2 separate regions of the Homo sapiens genome follow, and region 1 is linked to region 2. Evidence: fine-mapped expression QTL. A gene starts in region 2. The other region holds a variant in brackets. All regions are shown on one strand. Distances are between the middles of the regions.

Region 1 (5,375 bases), 310 kb before region 2:
CATATCAGGTGGTGAGTGAGAGAGTTATAGGATGACAGTGGCATTCCAAAGGCGTCTACTTCCTTGTCACTTTTCCCTACAAACACCTCAAATACAAAGTTGAGAACCACCAAGTGAAAATGGCCCACGTGGCAAGACAAGTCACTCATCCAGGGGTCCTCCCAATGACCTCTTCTGGCTTTTGGGTTTGATTCCCCTGACTGGTTTGATCTTACTATCATACTTTCTATTGCACCCAAGAGGCAGGCGCTGGCATTATTCAACTTTCCTTAGAGACCCAGCCATCCTGTTAAACAGTGATGAGGAAAGAGAAGAGAACAAGGAGACTTTGCATTTTAAAAATTAAAAGCTCCAATAGGTCATTTTGCTTAAAAGGAAATCTCTCGGCCGGGCGCAGTGGCTCACGCCTGTAATCCCAGCACTTTGGGAGGCTGAGGTGGGCGGGTCACGAGTTCAGGAGATCAAGACCATCCTGGCTAACATGGTGAAACCCCATCTCTACTAAAAATACAAAAAATTAGCCAGGCGTGGTGGCGGGCGCCTGTAGTCCCAGCTACTCGGGAGACTGAGGCAGGAGAATGGCGTGAACCTGGGAGGCAGACCTTGCAGTGAGCCAAGATAGCGCCACTGTACTCGGGCCTGGGCGAAAGAGCGAGACTCCGTCTCAAAAAAAAAAAAAAAAAAAAGGAAAGCTCTCTCACACCATAACCAAGGCAGAAAACATTTGTACCCAACGCTCACATCTACCTACAATCTCTGTTAGGCGGTTGCTCTGTGACTTACTTTTCTGCTCAATATTGACTTCAATGGATATTTTACTCTAATTTCCTCTGCATAGAAATGTTTGGTGATTGTCTTGCTGGAGGAAGGGTACATTGAGAGCCCATTGTGAATCTCACTGTCCATACCATCTTTCTATGAAATCTTGTTCAATAAACAATCATTAGGGGCAACATGGTGGACAGGAAGGCCATAGGATTAGAAGTCATTCATGCTCCCACATGGTAGGCATTTTCTCTGTAGAAGACAAGACTCAGTTTGAAAAGCATTTCTGTCACTCCCCAACTATGTGGATTACTTCATCTCTCCAGGCTTATCTTCCTTCTATTTGAAGGAAGAAAGGATGGCCAGGCGCAGTGGCTCACGCCTGTAATCCCAGCACTTTGGGAGGCTGAGGTGGGCAGATTACCTGAGGTCAGGAGTTCGAGACCAGCCTGACTGACATGGTGAAACTCCGTCTCTACTAAAAATAAACAAATTAGCCGGGTTTTGTGGCAGATGTCTGTAATCCCAGCTACTCAGGAGGCTGAGGCAGGAGAATCGCTTGAACCTGGGAGGCAGAGGTTGCAGTGAGCCGAGATCACACCAATGCACTCCAGCCTAGGCGACAGAGTGAGACTCTGTCCCAAAAAATAAAAAATAAAAAAGAGAAAGGAACAGGGTGGGAGTGGGAGGCATATATATGATCTCCATCATGCAGGGCTGTGAAGCTGGAACAGGGGCTATGTGATCACCTGTCACAGGGAAGGTGCTTAGAACATTCCATCCGCACTTCATTCTTGAAGCAAGAAACCATGCTAATAGCTCTCAGAGTTGCAGAGAAGGATGTTACCCAGCCCTGTCCCCCAAGTGCTGAGTCTTCAGGGAAAACATTTGTGTACACAGGTAATTCAGAATATTGGGCACATTGTGAAAGGTGCTGCCAGAACAAAGAGGAAGAAATTCATCCAAACAGCCAGTATTAGTAAAGGCTTCAGGGAGGAGGTGGCATTTGAGCTGAGCCTTGAAGGACAAGGATGGAGAAACAGCCAGGGCTTCCGGGAGGGAACCATGAGAGCACAGGCTGAAGACAGGAGGGGACAAGCATTTCAGGAAATGATGAAGCATTAAGGACAGTCAGGTGCAGACAGAGCCCAGAATGAGTGAGGCTTAAAGAACTGAAGGAGGCCAGATCATGACAGAGCCACAGATGCAGTGCTGAGATTGCATGGTTTCTTTTTTGTTTTGTTTTGTTTTGACTCAGAGCCTCGTTCTGTCGCCCAGGCAGGAGTGGTGCAACCATAGCTCACTGCAGCCTCCACCTCCTGGGCTCAAGCCATCCTCCTGCCTCAGCCTTCTGAGTATCTAGGAGTATAGGTATGTACCAACATGCCGGGATAAGCTTTTTTATTTTTATAGAGACAGAGGTCTCACTATATTGCCCAGGCTGGTCTCAAACTCCTGGCCTCAAACGATCCTCCTGCCTCAGCCTCCCAAATCACTGAGATTACAAATATGAGCAAGATTACATGTTATCATGGGGGAGGGGCGCATAAGATTCTCAGACCAGGAAATTACGTAATCAGAACATCATTTTAACACAGTGAACACACATCTCTGTCTGCCCAGGATAATCCACTGGCATAATTATCAATGGAACCCCCATTCACTCATAAAAGCACTTTCCTTTAGATGAAGAATTACATGATCACTCTCAGTTTAGATCACCCTGCTGTCCATGGGACACAGAAACCAGGGGCAAAAGGAGGCTGGACCAGAGAGCCATTCAGAGGCCATATCAACTATCCAAGCAGGAGGTAGGGACTTCCAAAGGCAGAGAACTCATGGGAAGGCAAAGTACTAGATCAAAGTACCAATTTGAAGGCAGATTCAACAAGACCGATTGATTACCAGACGAGTGATGGAGAAAGAAATAAGCAGACCCACTAGATGACTGACAGTTTAGTATCAGATATGGGGACTGGACAGGCTGAGCAGGACATTCTTGTGTAAGAGGGCAAGGAGCTGGCAATGAAAATCTGGAGCACAGAAGAGGCCAGAGCTGGAGATGTGGATTTGGCAGATGGCAGAATCCTGGGGACAATCATGGCTGAAGAGGGAGGGTGTGAGACCACCCAGGGAGAGGGTCAAAAAGATGACAGTGAGGGTACACTGAGATGATACTGAGACTTGTGCAAAAGAAAAGAAGATTCAGGGAGAAACAGGCTCATGGACACCTGTGGAGAAGAAGGTTTGGGGATGACTGCCAGGATCAACAGAGCCAGACGCTCCTGCAGGAGTGAGTAGGTTGGAAGAGGAC[A/G]ATGGGAAAGACCTTTGAAAGTTCCATTGCACCAGAACAGTGGGGCAGAGGCAAATTCAGTGGGTTGAAGAGGGAGTGGGAGGTAAGGAAGTGGTGTCAATAAGTACAGATGATTCTTTGGATAAATCTGTTAGTGAAAAGAAGGAAAGAGATGAGACTGTGGTTTGAGGGAATAATTTTTTTAAAAAAGAGGGGGCAGGGAAGCATTTGGGAAGTTAAATGTGGAAGTTGAACATATTTGAACACCGAGAGGAAGACAGTGGCAAGAAGAGGGGGTGTGAAGTTGCCAGAGATAACCATTTGGAATAAGGTAGGAACAGATGGCTTCTGCTCCAGTGGAGAGGCCATCCTTAGACAAGAGGTAGGACTCTGGAAGGAAGCGAGGCTGCACTTGGAGGGAGTGAATGCTGCAGGTGGTGGTGCCTATAGTAGTAGTATTATAACATCATTAGTAGTAACAATGAATGGTTAACCTTACTTTTTGTTTACATGCAAGTTCTCTGCATTGTTTAATCCTCACAACAGCCCCATTTTATATGTGAGAAAACTGAGCCCAAGAGAGGTTAATTAAGTTGCTCATAAACCACTGTAAAAATGCCAGAAGGTGGATTGAAATCCAGGTCTTTCCAATGGCATAGCCAGACTTGTGGGCCACTTGGAGTCAGTATAGACCAATGGCTCAGTCCTCTCAGTGAGCTGGAGGTGAAGTCATCTTCTGTGAATGATGGGGGTGGATGTGGAGGCCTGAGGAAGGAGGAGAAGAGTCGAAACAGCTGCTGGGAAGAATGCAGTAGGGATGAGCCAGAGAAAAGAGAGGGCACGGACAGCTTCCCAGGGGTACTGATAGTAGATTCCATCTCGTTCTTATCACCCTCATTCCCAGCCCCATTTCCTACCAGGGGCATGCACCCCATACTCTTCTCATTTATTTTGTGTCTTCTCTCCTCTAATCCCTCCATCAAAGGAAATAAGAGCCATGTGCTCAAGTGGAATGGGTCAGATTCTTCCCACTGCTGGAGGACTTGGTGATGGCCAGTGGGTAGAGCTGGGGAGGTGGTCCTCAGGGCCTTTGTCCCACCAAGAACACCCTTGGCCTGAAAGGCTTAGGGAAGCAAGGCATTCACCAGGCAACAGGGATTGCAGATGGAGTGTCTGGGAGCTGTGCCTCTGCGTTTAGAGGGCCAGCGTTGCTGTTTCTGCCTGGGCCCAGCCAATAGCAGAAGAGAGCTGGAGCCAAAGCACTTGTCCCAGGTGAACCAGCCATCTTCTATTCCATTAACAAGCCTGTTCATCCCGTGCGACCTCTTTCTACCAGAGATCTATTAATTTTAGCTAACAATCAGTGAAGAGGACACCATTTGATCCCAGAGCTTAAACCCATACTTCTTATTCACTGGTTTGACCACTTTGAAAATAGTAGCAGGATCAAATAGGCTGAGCCTCCCTCTTTGGACAGAACTTCATTGAATTGTAAATGGAAGGTGTTAGCCTTGGAGACAAGCTTAAAGATATGGTATTACTGCTTGTTGGATGTGGACCACCACTTATAAAAACCTACTAAGCCACTGGTCAAATTGATAGAATCCATACAGTACCAGAATCTAGAAAACATGGGGCTCAACTCAAATTTCCATAAAAGTGGCCAACAGGACCAGGGAATCGGCATTGAATTCTCAATGTGTGCTGACTTTCAGCCTCCAAATGTCATGGTCAACACATGGGGTCTCAGGATAGGACATCTGTGGGCTGGCAGGTTCCTGAAGCGTTTATTGGAATTTTCTTGGGACTCTTTTCCACAGTGCTAGAAACTGAATTGTAAGAAAGTAATCACAATGAATTCTTAATAATTGAGAAAAAGCACGGGGAAAATGATCACATCTGTTCAGACTAAAATGGAATCGTTTCAGGGAATGCAAGCCGACAACGCTCAATCTACATTTAAGGCGACTGTATTTGTAAGATTGGGGACAAGGAAGAGGGGAGAAGCAGCTCTTGAGAGAGAGAGTCCTAAATCTGTATATTCAGAATCCATGGGTGAATGTTTGGGAAGCAGTGATTTGTGTGTGTATGTGTGTGTGTGTGTGTGTGTGTGTATACACACGCACACATATAAGCACACACATTCTCACACACTCGAACCCACACACTCCAGGTTTCTGAAGAGCTGTATACCATTACCCAGTTCGAGTTGAAATGAACCCCGTGCCTCCCTGTAGCCCCTGTTTTGAGTTGTATTCTCCTATCATGGGCAGGAGAGTCTCCTGCAAACCCTGGCCACGGCGTCCTCAGTCCAACT
Region 2 (5,375 bases):
GGGAGCTCTGTTTTCATGCTATTAAATCTTGCAACTGCACACTCTTCTGGTCTGTGTTTGTTACGGCTCGAGTTGAGCTTTCACTCGCCGTCCACCACTGCTGTTTGCCACTGTCGTAGACCCACTGCTGACTTCCACCCCTCCAGATCCAGCAGGGTGTCCGCTGTGCTCCTGATCCAGTGAGGCGCCCATTGCCACTCCCGTTCGGGCTAGAGGCTTACCACTGTTCCTGCGTGGCTAAGTGTCCGGGTTCGTCCTAATCGAGCTGAACACTAGTCACTGGGTTCCATGGTTCTCTTCCATGACCCACGGCTTCTAATAGAGCTATAACACTCACCGCATGGCCCAACGTTCCATTCCTTGGAATCGGTGACGCCAAGAACCTCAGGTCGGAGAACAAAAGGCTTGCCGCCATCTCGGGAGCTGCCTGCCCCATCATGGGAGCGGCTCGCCACCATCTTGGGAGCTTTAAGGACAAAGACTCACCTGTAACAATGGCTCTTGTAATCAGTGAAGGGAGAGGCTAACTTGGCCTTAAACCCCACGGCTGGGTCCTCACCACGTCCAAACAGGCTGGATCTGCTCGCTCCCTGCCAGGAGGAGGGAGGCCAATGAGAAATGTATCATTGTGGCTCATAGTGCACCAGAGAATGGAGACTATATCAGAAAAGACCCCGCATGATTTCCAAGCTGATCTTTTAATCTGGGGGAGGATCACGGGCTGTGGGGATGCTGGGATACAGGTCCATAGGTTCACCCTCTACAAAGAATCACACATCTTTCCTTGGGCCACACAAAGCAGTTGCTCTTCTGTTACAGGAAAAGGGTCCTGATCCAGTCCCCAAGAGAGGGTTCTTGGATCTCCCGCAAGAATTCAAGGTGAGTCCAAAGTGCAAAGTGAAAGCAAGGTTATTAAGAAAGTAAAGGAATAAAAGAATGGCTACTCTGTAGACAGAGCAGCCCCAAGGGCTGCTGGTTGCCTATTTTTATGGTTATTTCTTGAAGATATGCTAAACAAGGGGTGGATTATTCATGCCTCTCCTTTCTAGACCATATAGGGTAACTTCCTGACATTGCAGTGGCATTTGTAAACTGTCATGGTGCTGGTGGGAGTGTAGCAGTGAGGATGACCAGAGGTCACTCTCGTGACCATTTTAGTTTTGGTGGGTTTTGGCCAGCTCCTTTACTGCAACCTGTTTTATCAGCAAGGTCTTTATGACCCATATTTTTGTGCTGACCTCCTATCTCATCCTGTGACTTAGAATGCCTTAACTGCCTGGATAGGCAGTCCAGTAAGTTTCAGCCTCATTTTACCCAGCTCCTATTTAAGATGGAGTTGTTCTGGTTCACATGCCTCTGACACTTCCAGCTCTTCCACCCACACACATCTTCCCTGTCTTGGGGCAGAGGGCAGTAGCCTCGTACCCTGAGGATTCTTGAAGGTCTGGGGTCCGAGCAGCTCCATCAGAAGCCCCATCGGGGACCTCTGAGGGGTCAGTGACAGTCCCTGGGGACAGACGGTGGCTCCCCAGGACGCTTTCCCTATTAAGCCACTGGCAGAGTCCAGACACTTTCACTGGGTTGAGAGCTAGAAGGTCAGAGAGCGGGAGAGAATCCAGAGGTAGGTTCAGGGTTACTGTTTTGCTCAGCCCTGGATGGCCAGGCCCAGCCTCCCGCATTCTACTGGAAGGAGGAGGAAGATGGGTTTAGTTCTTCCCAGGGCAGGAGAGAGAAGCACAATTGTGGGCTGGGTTCCTCCTGCCTCTGAACACAGCGCCATCCCTTCTCCCAGGTGCTGGGCTGGGGTGTGTGGAAGATGAAGGAAAAGTGAATTAACTAAATAGGGTTCCTGCAGTGTCTGGAAAGCCTCTAAACCCCCGAGCACCTCAGGCTTCCCTGCCCTGATTCAGAGGTGAGGTTACCTAAAAGCCAAGGAAGCCTGGGCTTCGGGGACCCTCACTCACAGGCCCCCTTCCAAAAAAGCCCTGCACCTAAGCTTGTACTGGGACTTCTGTATTATTTTTCCCAAAGGGCGCTCCCCACGTTGTATACACTTCCGGCCCCCAAATCTGGATCCACCCTGGGAAGGGACAAACTGGGGGCAGCCTACCCACATTCGGCCAGCGGGGGGTCCGACCGGCCTTGGTATCTCCAAGCGAGGTAACAGTAGTCGCCCCTTGCGTCCCTCCCCCTCCGGGGCGCATCGCCCCTTGCGTGCAAAGCCCCGGCACCGCCACGAGTCTCGCCTCGCCCTGCACAGGTAAACAGCCGCTGGCCGCCGGCCGGCCGCCCTGCAGGGCAGCCCGGGGACCTGCCCCCGGCGCCACGCCCGGCGCCCCGGGGAGGCCCAGCCCGCAGGCCCCGCCGACTGGGCGCCGCGCCCTGGGAACGTGCACCGGGGCAGGCAGCCCGGCCTCACCTGGCCCCAGCGCGGAGCCGGATCACACCTGCCTGCTGGGTGAGCCGAGGGCATTCGCGGAAGGGAAGAGACAAGACCTGGGAAGGGACGCCTGTGGCTTAGAAAGACCCTCAGGCAGGGCCGGGCGTGGGGCGCGCTGATAAAAATTCCTGGAGCTGTATTATTCACATCGCAGATTTGTCCCTTTGCCTCAATCTAAAAGGAATGGGAAAGAACAGCCGCTGGGCTCTCATTTGCTTCCAGCTTACACAGATTCAACTATCAATTATCCCAGAGGAGAGGCGTGCAGTGCAGGGCGTTGGGCCACGAAACTGAAAGCTGCTGGCGAGGCGCGTGGGGGAGGTCGATTTCTGCGTCCTGCTGCCTCCACGCACAGTGAGAACCCACCCCGCCACTGCGTTCCTGTCCTCACAGGTAAAGTCAGGATAATAATATCTACCTCACGGGGGATTCGAGGAAGTGGTGGGAGCGTAAAGCCCCGTCTGGTAGAGTGAATACCTGAGCAATGGCCTTCCGGTCCCGTCTTCAGCACAGCAGGACGAAAATGTCTTCTGTTGGGATCCCAGAGAAGATCCAGACGCTGACACCTGCCCCTACCTCTCTACTTCTCATCATACCGGTCACCTGGAAGAAGGGTCCATTCAAAGCAAAGCCTGTAGCCAATGAGTTGTTTCTGCCATCAAACAGTCAAGCATATGAGGCCCAATAGGCAGTCCTGTTTTTTTTGTGACAGAGTCTCACTCTGTCGCCAGGCTGGAGTACAGTGGCGTGATCTCGGCTCACTGCAACCTCCACCTCCCGGGTTAAAGTGATTCTCCTGCCTCAGCCTCCCGAGTAGCTGGGATTACAGATGCACGCCACCACGCCGGCTAATTTTTGTATTTTTAGTAGAGACGGGGTTTCACCATGTTGGCCAGGATGGTCTCGATCCACTGACATCGTGATCCGCCCGCCTCGGCCTCCCAACGTGCTGGGATTACAGATGCGCCGGCCAGGCAGTCCTGTTAAGCCATGCCACACAGCTTAAAAAAAGACACTGGCAAGCTCAAGTCCCGAAGTTACCAGCTGAAGGAAGAGACTTAAACCAAACCAAGGGCTTCCTATGACAGTTCTGAAATACCCTCTTCCCTCTTGAGTCCATACAACTGAGAAAATAGAACGGCCAGTCACCGTGGCTCGTGCCTGTAATTCTGGCACTTTGGTAGGCAGAGGCAGGCAGATCACCTGAGGTCAGGAGTTTGAGACCAGCCTGGCCAACATGGTGAAAGCCCGTCTCTACAAAAATACAAAAATTAGCCGGGCATGGTGGCGCATGCCTGTAGTCCCAGCTACTCGGGAGGCTGAGGCATGAGAATTGCTTGACCCGGGAGGCGGAGGTTGCAGTGAGCTGAGATCGTGCCACTGCACTCCAGCCTGGGTGACAGAGCGAGCCTCTGTCTCAAAAAGAAAAAACAACAACAAAAAGGGAAAACCAAAGGTAAAATTTGATCCACAGGACTGGCCACATTTCTACACTGGTAAAATCATGGCCTTGCTGAAGCATTGATCAGGAAGGGATAAGACCCAGAGAATCCAAATGGAGACAAATGAGAGGATTTGGAAAACCTGAAGTTCTCTGAATCACCCAGTCCTCAAAGAGCCTCCTTCGTCAGCGGAAACCCTCTTCTCCAGTCTTCTGACACACTTCGTAACGACACTGCCATTTCTTTGCATCCTTTGCAGTCTCACTGCAAGAGCAAGCCAGTTCTCATGCATTACCCTCGACTGTCTCCAGAATGGACAGTTAGATCCCAGCACTTCAGAAAGAAGGACAATGGCAAGCTCAAACCAGCGAGGATCAAGATTAGAAACCAACATGATTTTGGGATTTTCCTAACTAAGGGTGCTTAATAAATGGGTGGAAAGGTATCATTTTACACTGGTCTGATGTTGTTGATATACATTGCAGAGATTCTGGATTGACTGTGCTAGCAGGAGAAGCTGGGAGTGACTTCTGAGCTGGACTGACCACTGGACGCCAAGTGATTATCCCTAATGTATTACATGTCATTTGCAACCCAAGCTGTCCGTCATGTACTGGGCCATCTGACACACTCATAAAATCCCATTACCAACTGGAAATGGTTTATGTGGGACTAGCTCCTAACCAGGTACTGAAGGCACAAGTGCATTATATGCATAGGTAGATCATTCCCTGTGTGCCTACCCCTGACCCTTTCATCAATCTAACACCGGCCTCAAAGGGGTTTCCCAAGAGCTAGTGACTAAGAGAGGAAAAACCACTGATCCTCATTTACAGATAGCTTCACACCATATGCTTGCCTACCTTTTTTTTTTTTTTTTTGAGACGAAGTCTCGTTCTGTCGCCCAGGCTGGAGTTCAGTGGTGCGATCTCAGCTCCCTGCAACCCCTGCCTCCCGGGTTCCAGCAGTTCTCCTGCCTCAGCCTCCCGAGTAGTTGGGAATGCAGGTGGGTGCCACCACGCCCAGCTAATTTTTGGTATTTTTAGTTGAGACGGGGTTTCACTGTGTTAGCCAGGATGGTCTTTATCTTCTGGCCTCATGATCCGCCCACTTCGGCCTCCCTAAGTGCTGGGATCATAGGCGTGAGCCACTGCACCCGGCCCTACCTTCTAAATAGGTGACTGTGATGTTATAGTTCAGTGAGGATAGCAGGTGAGAGGGAGAACCTCCTGGGGAGGAGAATTTGAAGCACATAACTCTGTGTCCACTTTGCTTGGAAGCAAAGAAAATTTGATGCAAGAAGCTACACCAACTTCTGAGCAGTGTAGATGGGGGGTTCTGTTCAACAGGTCACAAACTTGAAAGAAGAATGACTGGAGGTTTAATGACAGAGGAGAGGTGTGGGAAGACATACATGGCTTCACTTCTCAGAATGGGCCAAATTTGAAAATGTTTGTTTCTTGAGTAAAACATCATCCAAAATACCCACTATA

Direction of the effects. Alleles are on the strand shown, and positions count from the first base shown. SD is a standard deviation of normalised expression in the study named.
In carriers of allele A in region 1, the expression in testis of the gene that starts at base 2,212 in region 2 tends to be higher than with G alone (small effect, 0.32 SD a copy in GTEx).

Evidence for each region. PIP is the estimated chance that this variant, and not a neighbour inherited with it, causes the effect.
Region 1: its variant is the best candidate, but not a certain one, in a credible set for the expression of LINC00511 in testis (GTEx, PIP 0.75).

What each region holds. Positions count from the first base shown.
Region 1 is chr17:72,330,635-72,336,009 of GRCh38, forward strand. No RefSeq gene overlaps it. Among named protein-coding and RNA genes, the nearest start is that of LINC02003, 9.5 kb to the right of the region's middle. The variant A/G (reference allele first, on the strand shown) is at 3,080.
Region 2 is chr17:72,638,261-72,643,635 of GRCh38, forward strand. It overlaps LINC00511 (long intergenic non-protein coding RNA 511), which reads right to left and starts at 2,212. Exons shown (of 5, transcript NR_033876.1): 1 at 2,111-2,212; 2 at 487-590. LOC105371887 (a long non-coding RNA gene) reads left to right here and starts at 2,415. Exons shown (of 4, transcript XR_934961.3): 1 at 2,415-2,458; 2 at 2,663-2,833; 3 at 4,368-4,569.